3 separate regions of the Homo sapiens genome follow, and regions 1 and 3 are each reported to be linked to region 2. The links are microRNA targets in miRTarBase. Many come from high-throughput screens and were not tested one by one. Region 2 holds a microRNA gene; each other region holds the end of a gene's coding sequence.

Evidence for each region. Region 2 holds the annotated microRNA hsa-miR-296-3p (GAGGGUUGGGUGGAGGCUCUCC, at 1,849-1,870, opposite strand). A microRNA usually pairs through its seed, bases 2 to 8, with sites in the 3' UTR of a target mRNA and lowers its output. Matches are read on the target gene's strand: a 7mer-m8 pairs with bases 2 to 8, a 7mer-A1 pairs with bases 2 to 7 and ends in A, and an 8mer does both.
Region 1: miRTarBase lists NUDC as a target of hsa-miR-296-3p. The part of its 3' UTR that is shown has no 7-base or 8-base seed match.
Region 3: miRTarBase lists CDKN2A as a target of hsa-miR-296-3p. The part of its 3' UTR that is shown has no 7-base or 8-base seed match.

The regions. Positions count from the first base shown.
Region 1 is chr1:26,944,944-26,952,133 of GRCh38, reverse strand. It overlaps NUDC (nuclear distribution C, dynein complex regulator), which reads right to left. Exons shown (of 9, transcript NM_006600.4): 7 at 6,661-6,744; 8 at 6,448-6,566; 9 at 5,263-6,004. The coding sequence ends at 5,953. KDF1 (keratinocyte differentiation factor 1) reads left to right here. Exons shown (of 4, transcript NM_152365.3): 2 at 1-792; 3 at 1,378-1,452; 4 at 1,983-2,572. The coding sequence ends at 2,065. Among named protein-coding and RNA genes, the nearest start is that of KDF1, 12 kb to the left of the region's middle. RefSeq lists a silencer at 3,602-3,896.
Region 2 is chr20:58,815,778-58,822,967 of GRCh38, forward strand. MIR296 (microRNA 296) reads right to left here and starts at 1,917; the gene lies at 1,838-1,917. MIR298 (microRNA 298) reads right to left here and starts at 2,536; the gene lies at 2,449-2,536. It also overlaps GNAS-AS1.
Region 3 is chr9:21,961,531-21,968,720 of GRCh38, forward strand. CDKN2A (cyclin dependent kinase inhibitor 2A) reads right to left here. Exons shown (of 3, transcript NM_000077.5): 3 at 6,222-6,712. The coding sequence ends at 6,699. It overlaps CDKN2A-AS1 (CDKN2A antisense RNA 1), which reads left to right and starts at 5,609. Exons shown (of 1, transcript NR_024274.1): 1 at 5,609-6,224. RefSeq lists an enhancer at 1,379-1,523 and a cis regulatory region at 1,449-1,451.

The sequences.
Region 1 (7,190 bases), not on the chromosome of region 2:
GGGAGTGGTGCCGGGCTGCCTTCTGCTTCCGCCGCTGCCGGGATTGCCTCCAGCGCTGTGGAGCCTGTGTGCGGGGATGCAGCCCCTGCCTGTCTACTGAGGACTCCACTGAGGGGACTGCTGAAGCCAACTGGGCCAAGGAGCACAATGGAGTGCCCCCCAGCCCTGATCGTGCACCCCCCAGCCGGCGGGATGGCCAGCGGCTCAAGTCAACCATGGGCAGCAGCTTCAGCTACCCCGATGTTAAGCTCAAAGGCATCCCTGTGTATCCCTACCCGAGGGCCACCTCCCCAGCCCCTGATGCGGACTCCTGCTGCAAGGAGCCACTGGCCGATCCCCCACCCATGCGACACAGCCTGCCCAGCACCTTTGCCAGTAGTCCTCGTGGCTCCGAGGAGTACTATTCTTTCCATGAGTCGGACCTGGACCTGCCGGAGATGGGCAGTGGCTCCATGTCGAGCCGAGAAATTGATGTGCTCATCTTCAAGAAGCTGACAGAGCTGTTCAGCGTACACCAGATCGATGAGCTGGCCAAGTGCACATCAGACACTGTGTTCCTGGAGAAGACCAGTAAGATCTCGGACCTTATCAGCAGCATCACGCAGGACTACCACCTGGATGAGCAGGATGCTGAGGGCCGCCTGGTACGCGGCATCATTCGCATTAGTACCCGAAAGAGCCGTGCTCGCCCACAGACCTCGGAGGGTCGTTCAACTCGGGCTGCTGCCCCAACCGCTGCTGCCCCTGACAGTGGCCATGAGACCATGGTGGGCTCAGGTCTCAGCCAGGATGGTAGGTGGGGGCCCCATGGGGCTGAGGGGCAGAGTAGGGGAGGCTCTGGCCAGGGGAGGGTTGGAATGGGGTCTTTAGTCACTGTGGGTCTACCCCTCAGCCAGTCCCTGCCTTTCCTCCTCCTTTCTGTCAACTCTTGCATCCCCTCTCCCCAGCTCCCACTCTGGCCCTTCCTGGTGAGGTCCGAGCAAGGCTGAGAGAAGCATGCAGACCCTGGGAGAGCTCTCTGGCCATCGCTGCTGTCCCCAGAAAGGTCAAGGTTCCCTCTGCATTCAACAAGTTTACCCAAAAGGCTCCTCTCCTCTGCTGTCTCCTGCCAGAGTAGCTTCTAGGCCTGGTCTGGTGAACAGGACCTAGGGACCCACATGAATTTGGGCCTCTGACCTGTTCTGGGCTAACCAAAACTCCCACTCATCCATCACTCTGCGCATGCACACGTTGTCTATGTCTCTGTCTTTAAGCATTATTTTTCTAGCCCTGCCCAGGAGTGAGTGGCTCCTCCCTCATCGGGCTGGGAACAGAAGTAGGAAATAGGGTTGAAAGAACGTGCTAATGACCACTGCTTGCCTCACGTTCCCTCCCTAGAGCTGACAGTGCAGATCTCCCAGGAGACGACTGCAGATGCCATCGCCCGGAAGCTGAGGCCTTATGGAGCTCCAGGTGTGGTCTTGACCTAATGAGGGGTGTGGAGGGTGGGGGACTACCCTAGGGGCCCCTCACCTGCTGCTCTCCCAGCTTTCTTTTGGGGTGATGAGGATGACATCAAAAAGGGACGGGGACCTAAGCAGCCACAGACCTGTCTCCATCTAGCAAGCTGGCTTAAAGTGGGTGCAGGTGCCCAGAACAGGCAAGCTGAAAGTGATCAGACCCCAACCTTCAAGCCCAGATGACTAGGAAAGTAGTGGGTGGGGAGCCATCCAGCATGGTGCTGGAAAGACACCCGTGTGGTTCTGTTGCGGTCTTCTTGCCCTTGACAACAACCCCCTGGGAGTGGAATCATTATCCTTTTACAGAAAGGGAGGCTAGGGCTCAGAGAGGTCAATAAACTGAGTGGGTCATCCAGCCAGGATCAGACTGACCCAGGCTCAAGTCCCACTCTGCTCCTTCTCAGCAGGCTTCTCCCTGGTCATGGGATCTGGATGAGCTCCTTCCCCTGAGCCTGTTTCCTCCTCTCCTCTCCTTCCTACCAGGGTACCCAGCAAGCCATGACTCATCCTTCCAGGGCACCGACACAGACTCGTCGGGGGCACCCTTGCTCCAGGTGTACTGCTAACCCCTGCCAGGCCCAGCTGCCACACCCTTTCTGGGAGAAGCATGGCCTACAGAATGAAGAGGGGGACCAGGAACCCCTGTGGGAGAGGCTTAGACCTGAAGCAGTGCCCACTCTGGCTCCTCCTGCCTTGGCTGACTGGGTTCCTGGACCATGTGCATTTCACTGGGCCATGGGATCTACATCTCCTTGCATCCCCAGCTGGTCTGATCCCTGCCAGGGCCCCTTCCTTCCTGCTCATGGTCTTCAGGTGGCCTGATCATGGAAAGTAAGGAGTTAGGCATTACCTTCTGGGAGTGAACCCTGACTCCATCCCCCTATTGCCACCCTAACCAATCATGCAAACTTCTCCCTCCCTGGGGTAATTCAACAGTTAAAAGAAGCTTATCTTAAATGTATTGTATTGGGGGGTGGGCAGGGCCCACTCTATGTTATGTTAAGGAGTTGGTTCTGGTTCTTGGCTGATGTTCTGTATCTTAACATGACCACAGTTTGTAAGTACAAAGGTAATTGGTATCTGCCTGCTTTCTTGGCTGTCCTTTCTCTCCCATCTGCCTCACTTAACTGCTGCCCAGAGCAGGAGACAGGATATGTGTCCAGCCTGGCTTAGTGCCCTGCAGTTAAAGTAGGAAGGATAAAATGGGAGTAATGCTGCCCCCATTTCAGGTTCACTGTGAGTTCCAGGAGATAAAGAACCAAGCACAGAGTCTGTGCCTGAGAAAGGTTGGATAAATGGTTTCTGACATTGTTTGAGAGGTTCTTCTAGGGAGGCCTGTCCGAACTGCCTCTGCTCTCCCAGTCCACTGCCTGCAGGCTGGCCTGCTTCTGCCCAGCCCACAGTTTCCCCAAAGCCTTGATCATTTGTTGGCCCTACCCAGCCTTGGACCTGCTGCTCCCCTTCCACTCTCTCTGTGGTAGTAACAGAGCACTGTGGTTTTTTTTTTTTTTTTTTTTTTTTTGAGATGGAGTTTTTGCTCTTGTTGCCCAAGCTGCTGGAGTGCAATGGCACAATCTTGGCTCACTGCAACCTCCGCCTCTCGGGTTCAAGCGATTCTTCTAACTTAGCCTCCCGAGCAGTTGGGATTACAGGCATGCGCCACCACGCACAAATAATTTTGTATTTTTTAGTAGAGACAGGGTTTCTCCATGTTGGTCAGGCTGGTCTCGAACTCCTGACCTCAGGTGATCCGCCCGCCTCGGCCTCCCAAAGTGCCGGGATTAGAGGCGTGAGCCACCGCGCCTGGCCAGCACTGTGGTTTTCACCAGTATCTTCTTGGCCTCTCCAATAACGTTGGAGAAAGGACATTATTCTTTCACAGAGAGGAAACGTGGGGCTCACAGTGAGGTCAAGGAACTTAGTGGGACACGCAGTTAGTAACTGTGGCTCTGGCCTTGCTGGGGCAGATGCAGAATCCCTTCATTAGGTAGCAGAGCCCAGATGAGTTCAGAAGGATCCTACTTGGCTGCTCCTCACACACAGGCTTATCTACTGGTCCTCTTTCAGCAGAGAGGCCGGGGCAGGCCCACCAGCCCATTCTTAATTAACAAACAAGCTAGAAAGTGTTGAGGATCCCCCCACTCCAGCTCCCATCTGACCTGCTGCCCCCACCGCCCTTTTTATTGTTCCGAAAGGCACCCTTTGGAAAGTAACTACTAGACAAATTGTACTTGTTTGTCCAGTTTCCTAAGGGAAACAGGATGATCTCTCAGGGCTATGAACATAGGGTTCAGTTCTAACTCCAGGCTCTGCTGTCGCATCCGGGTCAAGGCCTCCAAAAGATTAAAATGACCACGGGGCAGAACAGGAGTACAGAGCGGTAGAGTGACACCACGAACCAAGCCTCAGCCCTAGAGCACCATTTTCCAAACCTAGCCTTTTAAACCATTATTTGCATTCCCAGGAAAAAAAAAAAGGTTTAGCAAGTTTGGAAAACAGACAAAGCTATGTACTGCATAGCCTCTCTGAAATCTTTAACAAGCTATTCTGAATTTTTTTTTTCCCCGAGACAGAGTCTCGCTCTATTGCCCAGGCTGGAGTGCAGTGGCACGATCTTGGCTCGCCACAACCTCAGCCTCCCAGGTTCAAGTGATTCGCCTGCCTCAGCCTCCCAAGTAGCTGTGATTACAGGCACGTGCCACCACACCCAGCTTTTTCTTTTCTTTTTGGAGACGGAGTCTCACTCTGTTGCTCAGGCTGGAGTGCAGTGGCGCGATATCTGCTCACTGCAAGCTCCACCTCCTGGGTTCACACCATTCTCCTGCCTCAGCCTCCCAAGTAGCTGGGACTACAGGCGCCCGCCACCACACCCGGCTAATTTTTTGTATTTTTAGTAGAGACAGGGTTTCACCATGTTAGCCAGGATGGTCTCGATCTCCTGACCTTGTGGTCCACCCACCTTGGCCTCCCAAAGTGCTGGGATTACAGGCCTGGGCCACCGCACCCGGCCAACACCCAGCTAACTTTTTATATTTTTGGCAGAAATGGAGTTTCTCCATGTTGGCCAGGCTGGTTTCGAACTCCTGACGTCAAGTGATCTGCCTGCCTTGGCCTCCCAAAGTGCTGGGATTACAGGCGTGAGCTACTGTGCCCAGCTATTCTCAAATTCTAAAAAAAACATCTGTGTTCCAGAAATTTAGGAGCCAAAGAACTAAGCACTCACAGCAAGTCAACCTAGACATTCTTGCTATAACCTCTGTGGCCCAAGCATTCTGACCTCCACTCTCTAGCCAAAGTGGGGCAGGGGTCAGCTCTGTGGGCTGGATCTGAGCAAAGGGGAGCACCTCTTCAGCCCTGGGAGCTGGCTTTGAGAAGGCCTAGAATCTGCAGAGGTCCAGGTCTGAGATACAAACAATGGAGCCTCACTGGACTTTACTCTGTCCTCCTGGTAAGGTCCCTGTACCACACACACCAGATCTGAGGCCTGAGCTGTCCTCCTGGTACCCCTCCCCTGAGCCAGGCAGTGTCACCTTGGCCCTTGCTGCTCTTCTGCCCTGGGACACAATAGTCTCTAGTTTCAAGAATACTTGATTCACGGCTAGAGGGCAGACCCGCTGCAGTGGGAAGTAAAAATCAGATCAACAAGTCCAGCGGTCTTAAAACTTTTTTGGGTCATGCGCCCCTTTGAGAATCTGACATGTGTTCTGGTCTCTGTAGCCAGAAAAACTCAACCTTTGCTCAGAAACATACATAGACTAAAAGCCTTGTTTTATTTATTTATTTTTTTGAGATGGAGTCTCTGTCACCCATGCTGGAGTGAAGTAGTGCAATCTCGGCTCACTGCAACCTCCGCCACCCGGGTTCAAGCGATTCTCCTGCCTCAGCCTCCCGAGTAGCTGGGATTACAGGTGTGCACCACCACACCCGGCTAATTTTTGTATTTTTAGTAGAGACTGGGTTTCTCCATGTTGGCCAAGCTGGTCTCAAACTCCTGACATCAGGTGATCTGCTCCCCTCAGCCTCCCAAAGTGCTGGGATTACAGACATGAACCATCACACCCGGCCAAGCCTTGTTTTAATCTTTAAGTAATGAGAAACTGAGGCCCAGAGAGGGGCAAGGATGTGCCCTAGGTCACATGGCAGAATCTGGGCTAGAAGCCAAACTCCCAGTTCCCAGCAGCAGCCGTAAGAGGCCTGTGCCCCAGAGAAAGGCCAGAGGCAAGAGAGGACACAGAAGGAGCTGGGCAAATCGTTTTAATGTGTAACAGTAGGCCAACTGGGGAGGACAAGGTCCCAAGACCCAGCCTTTCTCCTGATGCCCCGGGACCTGTGTGCCTGGGCCAGTCCCATGCCTGCCCCAAGCCCTGAGGCCCACAAGTCCCAGAGAAGAGTGGGAAAGAAAGTTGGGTGGTTGCAGCTCAGCCCCAAGAGTTCAGGGAGGAAAAAACAGGGGCTAGTTGAATTTAGCCTTGGAAAAATCCATCTCCGGATGTTGATCCATGAACCTGGAGAAACGGAAGCAAGATGAAACAGCTCATCCTTCTCTTCTAAAGCTGTCCCTTCTCCCAGCACCCCCGTGTCAAGTCTAATCTCTTTAGACCTCAGCAACACCAAGCCAGGCTGGGCAGGAGCAGGGCCCAGGGTATCTGAGACGCATTTGAGTCCCGAGGCTGGAAGCTGAGGCACCAACACTGGCATTGTTTTCCTGTAGGTGGCAATGACCGCCTGTTACCCCTTCCCTCCTATCATGCACCATGAGCCGGCCTTGCCCTCAAGATGACCTCAGCAAATGACAAGAGTAGGCAAGCCAAAGCCATAAAGCCATAAACATGGCTGGAAAGGGGGCAGGGCAGCTCCTGAGGCAGCGCAGTGATCCACTCACTGCTGTCACCGAAGTCTAAGCCCCCAGGCACCCACGGTCCCCCAACCCCGTCTCTGAATTGCTCACTTCTTCAGAATCTCCTGTTTCTTCTGTTCGTCTGAAGTTGGCAGCCCCATGGACTTCTGTCGCTGGTCATACATCATCTTTTCCACCATGCTGCGAGTCTCACTGTCCAGGTCTGACAGCTGAGGGCAGGCAGTGACAGGAATCGGTGAAGCTCTGGAAACAACGAGGCCCCTCACCTTCCTGCTGAAGCTCCCCCAACCAGCCAGGGCTCACCTTGGAATTCTCAGGGTTAATCTTCTTGGTGTTGATCTCAGGGTCACTGGACACCAAGCGGCTCCACCACTCCATCTTATTGATCTGTGAAGAGAACAACCAGAGGGTGGGAGGTGGCCTGCTCTGTGCACCAGGAATCACCCCTTAACCCTTTCACAACCAAACTCTCTCCCATCCACATCCTGCACCTGAGACCCTTGCAGGCCTACACTGGATCCAGAGGTACAAGACTGTGCCCTTCCTGCAGCTAGGGGAGACACAGAGGCAAAGAGTTACAAATCAGTGTGATAAGGGAAAGAAGAAAGCAGAAAGGGAGATATTCATCCAGGGTGGAGGGAGAAAAGTTTGAAAGTGACACTCGGGCTGAGTCTTAAGACACAAAGCAGTATTCCAGATTTAAAATGGGAAGAAAATAAATATATATATTTTTTGAGATGGAGTCTTGTTCTTCTTGTCCAGGCTGGAGTGCTGTGGCACCATCTCGGCTCACTGCAACCTCTGCCTCCCGGGTTCAAGCAATTCTCCGGCCT
Region 2 (7,190 bases):
CTGGGCCCTCGGGAGGGCTCGGTGTCTAATGATCCCATGGGGAAAGGGGAGCTGGAATGGGGCAGAAGCCACCAGAAGGAAGGTCAGCCTTGGAAAGGAATCACAGTGGGTTTTCCCGAGACAGAGGGGCGAGTGGCAGGTGGGGTGACAGAAGGGAGGCCAACCCTGCAGCAGGGCTGGGGGCAGTGAGGGCTGCAGGGCCTGGGGGCAGGGCTCCCATGAACTGTGCTACGGCACAGCCCAGGCATGGGGACACCCAAAAGAGAGGGCTGGGGTGCCAGCCTTAGCGGGAACAAGCAGGGAGCCCCCCACACCCCCACCTCAAGCTATGTCTCAAGGCCTGAGCCCCTGGGGCGTGCGCTTGCGTGTGAGTGAAGGCCTCTCTGCTCTCTTCCTGGCCTTCCCCAGCGCCCCTGGCCTCTTGCCCCATTCACACAAGGCCTTTTCCGCCTGGTACCTCAGCTGTGGGGCCTGGCTGGTGTAACTCATGGGGCCCCAGTGGGGGGCAGAGGGGCCACTGGTTTCCTGGCCTGCTGTCTCCACCAGGGTCTGGATCCAGGCACTTCTGCTGACAGCGCCCAGCGCGGGGCCACCATGTGCCCAGCGGCCTCCTGCAGAGAGGCCCCTGGGGAAGCTCCCCACTGGCCCCCTTTCCCCTGCCTAAGGGGAGGCCACAGCCACGGGAAGGGCTCAAGAATGGACTTCAGGGGTCCCTGAGACCCCAGAACTTTCAACTCTGAGTGACGTTCTTGCACTGGGAAGGGCCACTGTTCCTGCAGGTCCGGACTCTATTTTGGAGACTCCGCCAGCTCTAGCAGGAGGGAGGCTCACCCTTGCTTCTGCCCTCAGGACAGATGTGGGGACACTTTGCACCCCAAGTCCTCCTAGCCATGCCCGGCACCTCCCACCAAGTCTTGTCCACACAGGGAGCGTCAGGCCACCCTGCCTGTCACACCCCAGTTGCCTTCCTGTCTTTTCATCTTTTTGCTCTGTCCATCCACTCATCCATTGGTCCGTCCAGCAATAACCTGAGACCTGCTCCGTCCTAAGTGTATGAGAGAGTTCTGCCCTTTGGGGTTTAGTCTGGTGGGGGAGACAGGTGTTAAGACAGTGAGCCCGCAACTCCCCGCTGCGCTAATGCCATGAAGGCAGGGCCAGCCGCAGCAAGAGGAATCACAGTGGGGGCAACTGGTTCCACGCAGGAGTTGAGGGTGCCATGTTTCCAGCATGACCCCCAAGCAGCCACCATGAGTCAGAAGCAACCCAAGACCGTCAGACACTGCGCACTTGCTTCGAGGACTCTAGCAAGCAGAGCTGGGCTCTATGAAGAGTAAATACAAGAGCAAACATCCACCACTCTTTCTACACAAGTTTATTAGGCACCTGCTGGGTATCACGTGTGGAGACAAGCTGGACAACGTAACAATCCGCAAGGCAGCTACGGCCTTGCCCTGGAGCTCCCAGTCTAGCAGGGGTGGAAAACAGGTAAGCCCCCCAGCGGAAGCCCCAGACCTGGCATGCTGTGAGGTCGGGGAAGGAGCGGGGGCTTTCCCGAGGAGGCGTCAGTGAGGGTGGAGAGAGCCTCCGGAAGGGGAGCGGGCACCGGCGAGGATGGCACCGCATCCTGCAGGTGCTCGTGGCTGAGGGTGGGAGGTAGGTAAAACTCCCGGCAGTGGGGACCCACGGGAGACTGTGGCAGAGGCGCGGCACGGCGAGTTCACCATTCCCCAGTGCCCGGCCGCCCCAGGGGACTCAGCAGCTGACATGACAGGGGCCCCTCTTGTATCGACTGTCCTGTCTCCACTCCTGGCACACAGCTGCGGGTGCAGCGCTCTTCAGAGCCCTTCAGGAGAGCCTCCACCCAACCCTCTGAATTAGGCACAACAGGATTGAGGGGGGGCCCTCTGGAAGGGTCCTTTCTCCTCACCTCCCACATGAGGCTGGGCCTGATTTCACAATTTCACTCAGGATCTTCCCTCCTCAATCCTCCCAGCCCTGTCCCATCTCAGTGGCCTGTGGTGGACCCCAGATCCACAGACACAGGCCCTCTCCGCACAAGGGCTCACGTGGTCCCCAGCCAAGGCCCCTACAGCACTTTCTACGGAGCCCTCTTCCCAAACATGCACATCCAGCTTGCCTCTCAGCCACCCCGCCTCCATCTCAGCTCCAAGGAGGCCTTGGCAGCAGGCTCGGGGCGCCATGGAACGGTTCACTGCGTCTCTGCCCTGGCCTCACGTGCTGCCGGCTGGCCTTGCCATTCATCTTCTGAAGGCTATTCTCTGATGGCTCTGCTGGCCACCTTGATCTGAGTGGCAGGTCTGTGCTAACAGTGTTTTGTGTGGGGCCCTGGGAGAAGAGTCCATGAACCACTGCCTAACTCAAGTGCTGCCACGGTGAAGCACCCCTGCCTAGTTCTGAACAGACGCAGCACATCAAAGGGGAGCCGGCAGCTCACTCCTGAGCAAAGCAGCAGGCTAGTTCCTCACAGTCAAGGAAAACCACTGGGAGAACCTCCCTGCTTCTGCTGAAGACCTGAGCTGCTTCTCCCGGGTCCCCCAGTGCTGACAGGCCTCTAGCATCAGGTCCATGTGGCTGATTCTGGAGATCTTTAGGAGGATGGGACTGGCTGTTGAGAACTGTCAGTATGAGTCTGTCTGGCTACTCTGCCTGGGAACATTCACTGAGACATAAAGAAGATATTAAATAGCTGGAAAATTAGGAACCCAGCTAGGGCTGGAGGGGAGGTCTTAGAGGATCATTCTGTAAGTGCTGCCGGGGAAGGAACAACGGTGAGGGCTCAGGCTGGCTCTCTCTAGGGTCCTCCACAGGAGGAAGAAGACCACAAATCTAACCAGCCTAGCAGCCCCAGATACACAGAGCACATGTGGACAAAGCTGTGGCTGCCTGCATTCCATGGGATCATCTTGTATGCAGCAGTAAGAAGGGTCTGTTCTATGACTGCTCTGCTGCCTTTTTTTTTTTTTTAACAGCAGCTGGTTTGGAGTCTCCCACGTATTGCCTGAGGTGGTTTGGTGGTAACCAGCTAACAAAAATCCTTTCATTTTAGGTGCCTGTGGGTGGTGTGGTCGCCACCAAGAATGAGTCAAGCCATTTCTAAAGAATCCACAGTAGGCTCTGTCTGACAGGGTGCATCTGGGAGGGCCTGCCGGGCCTTTATTCAACACTAGATACGCCCCATCTCCAATTCTAATGGACATGTGCAGAAAATGTGATACAGAAACCTGCAGAGCAGCCAGTTCCCAGCGGACGTCAGAGATCAGCTCTTACCTCAAGGATCTTGCTCACCAAACTCTCTTTGCTTATCAAACCTTTCTTTCAGAGGGCAAAGGTTAACTCCCATCTAGAAGAGGTTGAAGTACTATGGTTTTCAAACCAGGAACGTGGCACTAATGAGGCGGAGCTCTGGAGAGGCACAGCTGCAGAAGGTTCCAGGGACCCTTGGAAGCAGACAGGGACCCTTGGGAGCAGACAGGTTTGGAATAAAAACAAAGAGAAAAACAGGGCAAAGGATTAACAACAGAAATGAAACCAGGCGCACACACACTCACCTGCGGCATGATCGCCTGCGGTCACACTCCAACTTGATATCTTGCTTCCAACGGCCAGAACGGCCATCAGTGGAACTTACTTTCACGGGCAATCTTTAGGCTGTTGTTTATTGTTGATTTAAGAGAGAAGCAGTTATGGTTTTGAAAACATGGCCCTTTTTCTGATGGGGGGAGAGCAGGTTTCAATGAAATGGGTGTGGAGTCCCAATCTCCAAGGCCTTTGTGTCTGATCTGAGAGAAGCCATCTGCCAGAGTCAAATTCTTCAGGGCCCTCAAGAACAGAGGGCAAGAAGCCAGGCTTAGATAAGCCTTTTCTGAAGCCCTCTGGCTGGCCAGAGAAAGGAGGCAGGGCTATGGTGCTCCACTGATCCTGTAGGGCCGGGGCAAGGAATGGGAACCCAAGCAGAAACCAGGCAACCAACCAGGATTGTTTCCATCATGAAACAATAGAGCAGGCAAACCCATCTACCTCTGGTCCCAACCTTTGTCACGGACAAAAAACCCAGACCCACACAGGTGACCACGACCTCAGTGTGAGGTAGAACAGCTGGGACCCGGACTCAGGTCCAACAGGTGCCCAGGGCAAAGGGGTCCTCGCACCCCGCCCCAGGTGACCCTCCCAGAAAAGGGGTGCTGAATGCTCATCCGTACTGCCTCTGCGGCCGTGCCATCTAGTGGGGAGGGGCTTGGGCACTCTGTGCCCCACCAGAGCCCCCAGGTTCTCAATCTCCAGAGTTCAGACGCCCGCTCCAGTGGGGGCACCAGGAATGGCAAAGAGATGCCTTCACGGTGTTGATGGTGTGCGCCAGCCACCCATGCACATGACCTGGTGTTTCTGTCGTGGAACTGGAGATGCGGCCTTAGGTGCTGACCGCTGAGCCACACAGGTGGGGCTCACTTTCTCACCTATCAAGAAATATACATGGGAAACCCACAGAGCCCTGCCTCCTGGCCCAGCTGCCAAGACGAGGCTGAGCCGAGCCTCTAGAAGCACCAGGTAGACGAAGGGAGGGAGGCACCACAGTAACCGGAGCCATACCTGGCACCTGGACACCTACCCGAGGGAGCTCTCCAAGGGTGCCCCACCTAAGGCCTAAGGAACCAGCTCTGACTATAGGCTGAGTCCCAAAGGGCCAAGGAAGATTCCAGAAGCACTAGTGAACCTTCTCTACACTGCCAAGCCAGAGGCCTCAGAGAAAGGCAGCCTCTCCCAGATGGACCCTGTATTAGTCCGTTTTCACACTGCTGATAAAAACAAACCTGAGACTGGGCAATTTACAAAAGAAAGAGGTTTAATTGGACTTACAGTTCCATGTGACTGGGGAAGCCCCACAATCATGGCAGAAGGCAAGGAGGAGCAAGTCACATCTTACATGGATGGCAGCAGGCAAAGAGAGAGAGCGCTTGCGCAGGCAAACTCCCGTTTTTTAAAACCATCAGATCTCATGAGACTCGCTATCATGAGAACAGCACAGGAAAGACCCACCCCCATACTTCAATCACCTCCCACCCAGTTCCTCCCATGACACGTGGGAATTGTGAGAGTTACAATTCAAGATGAGATCTGGGTGGGGACACAGAGCCAAACCATATCAGATCCCCTTCAGTGAAAAGACCCCAGCTACCCAATGTGGGGCAGCTCAGCTCCTGCTCTCCCCGCTCTCTTCTTGCCACAAGAATCCCATCTCCTAGTCAGGGAGACCTTCAAGCCAGCAGGGCCCTGCTCAGAAGCCTCAGGGCTTCCCGCTGCACTTGCAATCAGACCCCAGTGCCATGGCCGTGGGCTGCCCTTATGGTGCTGCCTCCTCAGCTACCCCAGCTCCTTCCCTGGCCCCTGCTCACTTCCTGCAGCCAGACTGGTTTCCTGCTTCCCTACAGCTCATGGCCAGCTCTTTCCCACCTCAGGGCCCTTCCACTGGCTGTCCCCTCTGTCCAGTGTGCTCTTTCCCCAGCTCCTGTGACTTGGCAGGCTCCTGACTCACCAGAGCCATCACCTCGGACTCCTCCATCAGCTCCATCATTTTCCAGGCAGCATTTGAAAGGCGACCTCTGGAGCCTGACCAGCCACTGGAGTTCAAATCCGGACTCCACGATTTTCCTGCTGTGTGGCCTTGGGCAAGCTATCTGACCTGTGCGTACCTCAGTTTTCCCATATGTTTGCTATGAAGAGTAAATTAATGCATTTCTCTAATGCCTAGAACATGGTAGGCACCATAAATCAGTAAGAGGAAGGGCTTCTCTGTGCCAAGAAGCCTGAGTGTGGGGCAGGCTGTGCAAGTATGGCTAACCCTAGCGTCCCTTGGAAGCCTACAGGAGGAGACTCACACTTCTTCAGAAGATGAGGGGATCTTCTGAGCCTTCATGTACATGGCTCTGAAGGAGTTAAGGCCTAGCTGTGGTCACAACTACCATGGATTCTTCTCTGAGGCCTGGATGAGCAAGAGAGAACTCTGACCCACTAAGGAAAAGGAGGGAATTCTGAATACGAATACGGATTAACTCAGGGGCCGCCTGAGGCCCACAACAGCCCCAACAGAAACTCCCCTCCTCCCTCACCTCCTCTCCTCTTGAAATCCTTGTGCTGAAAAGCAAGGCCCAGGTTTCATAGCAGCCTGGGCCTCCTCTGGCTTTCCTAAGTCATCCCTATCCCGACGAGAATGAGGGAGGCCGAGGGATGCACAGACGTTAAGTGGCTATGGTAACTGCCCTAGCCATTTTGTGTTTCTGCTCAGCTTACTAAGGGGCCCACCAGGAGGAAGGCAGGCAGCCATGATGGCTCCCCAGACCCGGCCATTCAATGCTCATCCATCAGCCCAGGTCTTCCAGACCAATGTCACAGCAAAGGCAAGGAGGCCCCGGCCAGAACTCAGTTGCTGGGTCCCTGCCCAATTCTGATGATGACCCTTGTTTCTTATAAGATAATAATAGCTCCACTTTACTGCAGGGAGAACAAGTGCAAATGCCTAAGGAGGCCAGGCCCCACTCAGAGATGAGTGACAGGCACAAGTGGTGGCAGGCACAGGGGTGTGTGTGCTGCTGGCCGAAAGGGGGCGGCCGCACCCCAGCTACGGTTGTCTATGGACAGGAAGAGGCAGGCCCCAGAAAACTAGAGGCTCCACTAGACCAGGAGAAGTCAAATGGCCAAAGGCTTCTGTAAAATCTGCGGACACCTAAACGTTGGCGGTCATCATCATTCATCCTTAAAAGAACTCCTGTGTGGTCGAAACATACCATGTATCTGGGTGAGAGCAGGCCTGGAGAGCAGCTTCCGGCTCCATCCCACAATGGAGGCTGGTCACCCATTAATTTGTACTATTAATAAAGGTGGCGAACATTTAGGGACACTTTTCTGAGTGTCAGGTGCTGCTTGTTCTTACTTAATTCTCTCCTGGCCCCTTCCCTGAAGTCAGGAAACTGCCTTGGCAGATAAATAAGTCGCCCCAAGGCCCCGGAGTGGAAAGCAGGGTGCTGAGGTTAGCGCTCACATCTCTCTGATGCCACAACAGGGCCCTGAACCACCAGCTCTGCTCCCTACGTGTTCCCGACCTAGGGCTGGGCTCTGACCTGGCTCCTCTGGCCCTGTCCTTGGTGCTTTCACACAGTTCTGTCCGCCCCTGGCCC
Region 3 (7,190 bases), not on the chromosome of region 2:
TTTTATCTTCCCTTTGAGATAGACGTTTAGTCCTTTACTGTTATTACCTAGCACAATATCTGGCACACAGTAGGTGGCCACTGATTATTTCTTGAATGAAGTAAGGAATGAGAATATTACCTACAGAGTTAGAGCTCTGCGCATTACTTCCTTCCAGATTTCATACATCTTTTTTTAGTAATGAATGCAAACAGGCTCTGGGGCAGCTACATTATCCTTCTGAATCAAGACAGGGATTTCGCAATGCTTATTTTCAATTTCTTCAGAAATGCCTTAAAGATATTAATGGAGGTAACAACTTAATCTCAAATAGTAATCCATAGACAGAATATGTAACAGCAATGTTCTCTGATCTGTTCTTTGGCTTCTATTCCCTAGAGAAATAGTTCTCTAAGACCAAACAGTCTATAGATAGAATTGTAGCAACAGTCAATTATGATGTTAGCTATTTGAGAGACGGTTGAGAATTCAGAAAAAACTACTGAAATGTTGTAAGACAACTCACTCAAAGAACAGTTCAAATAGTGGAAAAGGGAAATGATGATGTATCCATTTATTTTGTTCTATTTTTTCCAATTTCATAGGATAGCAAATGCTGCCCATTTATTTATTTTTTTATTTTTCATAAGTTATTGGGGTACAGGTGGTGTTTGGTTACATGAGTAAGTTCTTTAGTGGTGACTTGTGAGATATGGGTTCACCCTTCACCTGAGTAGGATACACTGAACCATATTTGTAGTCTTTTATCCCTCGCCCCCTCCATCTCTTCCCCGTAAGTCTCCAAAGTCCATTGTATCATTCTTATGCCTTTGCATTCTCATAGCTTAGCTCCCACATATCAGTGAGAACATACAATGCTTGGTTTTCCATTCCTGAGGTAGTTCACTTAGAATAGTAGTCTCCATTCTCATCCAGGCCACTGCAAATGCTGTTAATTCATTCCTTTTCATGGCTGTGTAGTATTCCATTATATATATATATATATACCACAGTTTCTTTATACACTCATTGATTGATGGGCTTTTGGGTTAGTTGCACGATTTTGCTATTGTGAATTGTGCTGCTATAAACATGCGTATGCAAGTATCTTTTCCAAATAATGATTCCTTTTCCTTTGGGTAGAAACCCAGTAGTGGGATTGCTGGATCAAATGGTAGTTCTACTTTTAGTTCTTTAAGGAATCTCCACACTGTTTTCCATAGTAGCTGTACTTGTTTACATTCCCACCAGTGGTGTAAAGGTGTTCCCTGCTCACCACACCCATGCCAACATCTACTGTTTTTTGATTTTTTGATTATGGCCATTCTTGCAGGAGTATAGCATTGTGGTTTTGATTTGCATTTCTCTGATCATTAGTGATGTTGAGCATTTTTTCATGTTTGTTGGTCAGTTGTATATCTTCTTTTGAGAATTGTCTTTTCATGTCCTTAGCCCACTTTTTGATGAAATTGTTTGTTTTTTTTTCTTACAGATTTGTTTGAGTTCATTGTAGATTCTGGATATCAGTCCTTTGTCAGACGCATAGATTGTGAAGGTTTTCTCCCACTCTGTGGGTTGTCTATTTACTCTGCTGACTGTTCCTTTTGCTGTGGAAAAACTCTTTAGTTTAACTGGGTCCCAGCTACGTACCTTTGATTTTATTGCATTTGCATTTTGGTTCTTGGTCATGAAATCCTTGCCTAGTCAATGTCTAGAAGGGTTTTTCCAATGTTATCGTCTAGAATTTTTATAGTTTCAGGTCTTAGGTTTAAGTCCTTAATCCATCTTGAGTTGATTTTTGTATAAGGTGAGAGATGAGGATCCAGTTTCATTCTCCTATTATGTGGCTAGCCAATTATCCCAGCAACATTTGTTTAAAAGGGTGTCCTTTCCCCGTTTTATATTTTTGTTCGCTGTGTCAAAGATCAGTTGGCTGTAAGTATTTGGGTTTATTTCTGAGTTCTCTGTTCTGTTCCATCAGTCTATGTGCCTATTTTTATACTAGTACATGCTGTTTTGGTGACTGTGCCTTTATAGTATAGTTTGAAAGCAGGTAGCATGATGCCTCCACATTTGTTCTTTTTGCTTAGTCTTACTTTGGCTGTGCAGGCTCTTTTTTGGTTTCATATGAATTTTAGAATTGTTTTTTCTAATTCTGTGAAGAATGATGGTGGTATTTTGATGGGGATTGCATTGAATTTGTAGATTTTTTTGGCGGTATGGTCATTTTCACAATATTGATTCTGCTCATCCATGAGCATGGGATATGTTTCCATTTGTATGTTGTCTATTATTTGTTTCAGCAGTGTTTTGTAGTTTTTCTTGTAGAGGTCTTTTGACTCCCTGGTAAGGCATATTCCTAAGTATTTGATTTGATTTGATTTTTTTTTTTTTTTTTTTGCCGCTACTGTAAAAGGGGTTAAGTTCTTGATTTGATTTTCTGCTTGGTCGCTGTTTGTGTATAGAAGAGCTACTGATTTGTATACACTAATCTTGTATCCAGAAACTTTGCTGAATTCTTTTATCAATTCTAGTAGCTTTCTGGAGGAGTCCTTAGGGTTTTCAAGGTAAACGATCATATCATCAGCAAACAGTGACAGTTTGACTTCCTTTTTACTGATTTGGATACCCTTTTTATTTTTCTCTCTCATCTGATTGCTCTGGCTAGAACTTCCAGTACTATGTTGAAGAGGAGTGGTGAGAGTGGGCATCCTTGTTCCAGTTTTCAGAGGAAATGCTTTCAACTTTTCCCATTCAGTATTATGTTGGCTGTGGGTTTTCATAGATGGCTTTTATTACATTAAGGTATGTCCCTTGTATGCCAATTTTGCTGAGAGTTTTAATCATAACAGGATGCTGAATTTTGTCAAATGCTTTTTCTGCATCTATTGAGATGATCATGTGATGTTTTGTTTTTAATTCTGTTTTCGTGGTGTATCACATATGTTAAATCATCCCTACATTCCTGGTATGAAACCCACTTGATCATGTCATGGTGGATTATTTTTTGATATGTTGTTGGATTCTGTTAGCTAGTATTTTGTTAAGGATTTTAGCATCAATGCCCAACAAGGATATCAATCTGTAGTTTTTAAATGTGCTTTTCTGGACCGGCACGGTGGCTAAGGCCTGTAATCCCAACACTTTGGGAGGTCGAGGAGGGCGGACCACTTGAGGTCAGGAGTTCGAGATCAGCCTGGCCAAAATGGTGAAAATCCGTCTCTACTAAAAAGGTGTTGTGGCGGGCGCCTGTAATCTCAGCTACTGAGGAGGCTGAGGCAGGAGAATCGCTTGCACCCGGGAGGCGGAGGTTGCAGTGAGCCGAGATCGCACCACTGCACTCCAGCCTGGGCGACAGAGAAAGACTCCGTCTCAAAAAAAAAAAAAAAAAAAAAAAAGTTGTTTTCTGCTATTTCCTGAACTTTATTACGTAAATGAGACACGTGAGATCTGGAAGGAGGTGGAGGTGAAGACCCTCCCACCTGGCCTGCATCCAGAGTACTTGGGGTGTGGCACTGGCGTGGGCCCCAGGAAGGATCCCAGCCAGTTTTGGTGCTGGAGGCCCGGCCAAAGGAAGGGCTGCTCTCCCGTCCCGCGGGCTCCGAGGTCGCCGCACCCGGGCGCGCCTGGGCCTCGTCACCCGCGCTCGTGACGCGTGCTTACAAAGGAAACTTTTACAGGTTTCGGTGGGCAGGGCCTTTTATTGCCCTTCTGCTCCACAGCCCCCGTGCTTAATCGGTTGGTTGGGAGGTTTCTTTCGTCCGTGGTTTTGGAAAGTCCCCGCCTCCAAACCGCAGTCCCGCAGTCAGTTCTGCAGCCTCAGGGCCTCGAACAGCCATGCTTAGAATCCGTCCTTCTTTCCTGCTCCATCTACCCTTCCCCTCTGGCTTCTTTTTTTTCACTGGAGAAAGCCCACCCGAGTCTCTCAGCCTGCTTCGGAGGTTACTGCGGCCTCCTCCACGGGTAGTTCTGGGACCCGGGTCTAGTCCGCGGTTCCGGAGCAGGTCCCTCCCTGGAGTCGTCAGGCCCAGTATGCGTGTGCTCAGTGTGCTCGGGAAACACGCGTGGGCTTTAACAGCAGATCTCCATAAAAGGGTCCCGGAGATAGCCTCTGCCTGGCCCGAGGCCCAGTGCCTCAAAGCGGACGCCTTTGCGCTCCCGGAGGTGCTCACACCACAGCGGAGCCTGCTGGCGAGTGGAGCGTAGGACTGCGAACCAGCAATCTCCCGAGAAGCGGCGAGGGGGAGGGGAATGTCTGTGAATCGGTTATCCCTCCCACCCCCAGCAGAAGTCGGGGAAATGGGGGTGGAAGGGGGAAAAAGGGAGAGAACAGGAGTGGGGTTGAGGAAGGGTAAGGAGGAAGGTGAGCTTCCTACAGCTGCGGGGGAAGGTGGAGAAAATTTTCAGGGGGACAGCTGAGTGGTAGAGCTAGCGAGCTTCAGAGAAATGTTGACAGACAGATGCCCAGAAAGTGAGGATGCCGGGCATGGGCACTGCGTACCAGGCACAGGAGATATATGGAGGCAGGAAATTGGCACATCATAAGCATTTGACCATCCTGCCCTAAAACAAAACAAATTGAACAACAACAACAACAAAAGATAATAGCAAAAGTGGCACAGTAGTGAGCTCGCAGGGCCCATTCCTATATAGAAACACAGAAAAATAAGCAAAAGCTGCCAGAATTGACTTCGTGGGAACTCTGGGAAACAGTAAGAAAGTTTTACAGCAACCAAGTGAGTGCTGAACCAAGGCAAAGGTAACTGAAACGCAATGATAGAGAAGAGGGGCAGGGAAGTGTTGGGTAGACAAAGGCGGGTCCCTGGTAAGGGCCCTCCCCTGGGCCTGTGCCCACTGGACCTAGGTGAGGACAGGCACTCCTTCCTTCACGCCCAAATGTTGCATATCCCAAGACCACCCTGTCCCGCCACGCCCCCATCCTTTGCCTATGAAAACCCTGAGACCCTAGCAGGCAGACACACAAGCGGCTCTATGTCCAGAGGAACTCATCGGAGGAACTGGACGTGGAGCGGGGCACCCCAGCGGAAGGGAGCACGCCAGTGGAAGAGCACACTGACAGACCATAGGAGTCAGTCTGTTATATTATCATAGTATAATATTATAAAATTATTATAATACAATAAAAATATAAAAATATAAATAATGTAATAAATATGGATAAAAATAATAATTACATATTTATATTTATATGAGAACACTATGAATAATTTTAAGCCAAAAAACAACTCGATGTTCATCACTGGATGAGTAGACGAGCAATTTCCAGTATATTCATACAATGGAATATGATTCAGCCATAAAATGAAATGAGGTACTGATACATGCTGCAGCAGGAATGAACCCCCAAAACACTACACTTGGTGAAAGAAGCCAGACACGGAAGGTCACATATTGTATGATCCCATTTATAAGAAATATTCAGAATAGGTAAATCCATAGAGACAAAAGGAGTTTTGTAGTTGCCAGGAGTTGGAGGCAAGAAGAGTTTAACAGGTATGCTTAATGGGGCCTCCTATGCAGTTGACGAAAATGTTTTGGGCTAGATAGGAGTGATGGTTGCATAACATTGTACTAAATGCCACTGAATTCTACTCTTTAAAATTTTTAGTTTTATGTTATGTGGCGTGTACCCTAAAAAAAAAAATAGAGGTGCAGTGCTCCAGCACGGGATGAGGCAGCGTGGACAGGAGCATCTCCCAACCTCAGTGAAGTCTGAGCCGCGTGCCTGCAACAATCCCACTGTGGCAGAGAACCGCAGAGTTCCTTCCGGTTTGGCAGCAGTCATTCGCAACCTCACAGCCCTCTGGAACCCCAGCCTGGGGGTCTCAGAACGCCGAGGCGGGGACTGGGAGCCGAGTCGGATTCCGAGACTATGGGCCAGGGTTGGCTGGATTCAGTTACCTGGCTGAGGCCTGGTGAGCAAAATATCCCAAACCTCGCGTGATCTGGAAGGGGAAGCCGGATAAATACGGATCTCCAGATGTGCCAGTCTCGAGTCTATCGATATGAGGTCCCCCTAGAGTTTCTATTCATCATTTTAACCGCATTTCATCGATCTTGAGACACGGCTTTTGATATTTTATCACCTCAAGATAAATAGTGTTAGATGTCTAATAGCAGCGTTTTTCTAAGAGATACATGAAACAACAGTGTCAGAAACGATGCTGTCTTCCATGCGATGAAATTGTTGTAATAGGTGCTCAATAAATGTTGACAATAAATGAGTGAATGAATGAAAATTATTTTATTTTTATTTGAGCTTTGGTTCTGCCATTTGCTAGCAGTGTGACTCAAGAGAAGCCAGTAACCCCCCTGAGCTTCCCTAGTTCACAAAATGCTTGTCATGAAGTCGACAGCTTCCGGAGGCTGCGAGGCTCGCAAGAAATGCCCACATGAATGTGCGCTTAGGGCGTGAGTGCTCACTCCAGAAAACTCCAACACAGTGAAAAGGCAGAAGCGGTGTTTTTCTTTTTTACATTTTTATAAGAATATATAAAAAATGATATAAATGGACATTTACGGTAGTGGGGGAAGGCATATATCTACGTTAAAAGGCAGGACATTTTTAAAAGCTCTATTTTCTAAATGAAAACTACGAAAGCGGGGTGGGTTGTGGCGGGGGCAGTTGTGGCCCTGTAGGACCTTCGGTGACTGATGATCTAAGTTTCCCGAGGTTTCTCAGAGCCTCTCTGGTTCTTTCAATCGGGGATGTCTGCAGAGGGCAGAAAGAAAACAGGCGTTAGAAACCTGAGGTCAAAGATGTGTGGCACATCCCGCCCTCCTCTCTTGCCGTCCCTACCGGCATTGAAATACTTATGGATAAAGTTCTCGCAATGGCTTCACGTGCATGTACCCGCCGCCACCGCTCTCCCACACCTCCCTGGTCCAGCAGCTAGTCCACTGCCCGCCTGGCTGCTCCAGGCGCGCCGACCGCTCAAGCGCTCCAGGTCCACCCGGCGGAGGGCAGAGAAAGCGCGACCGCGCGGCCCGCAGGGTTGCAAGAAGAAAACGAGTGTTATATAATGAGTCTCAGTGGTTGCTCACAATGCCAGGCGCGAAGGCGTGAAGATGTGGCCTTTCCCTTCCCGCATCCCCAGGCATCTTTTGCACCTGGTGCGGAGTGAGCCAGCCAGCTTGCGATAACCAAAGGGCGCCTCAGGCTCTGGCGCTCCTCGGCGGAATCCCGTAGC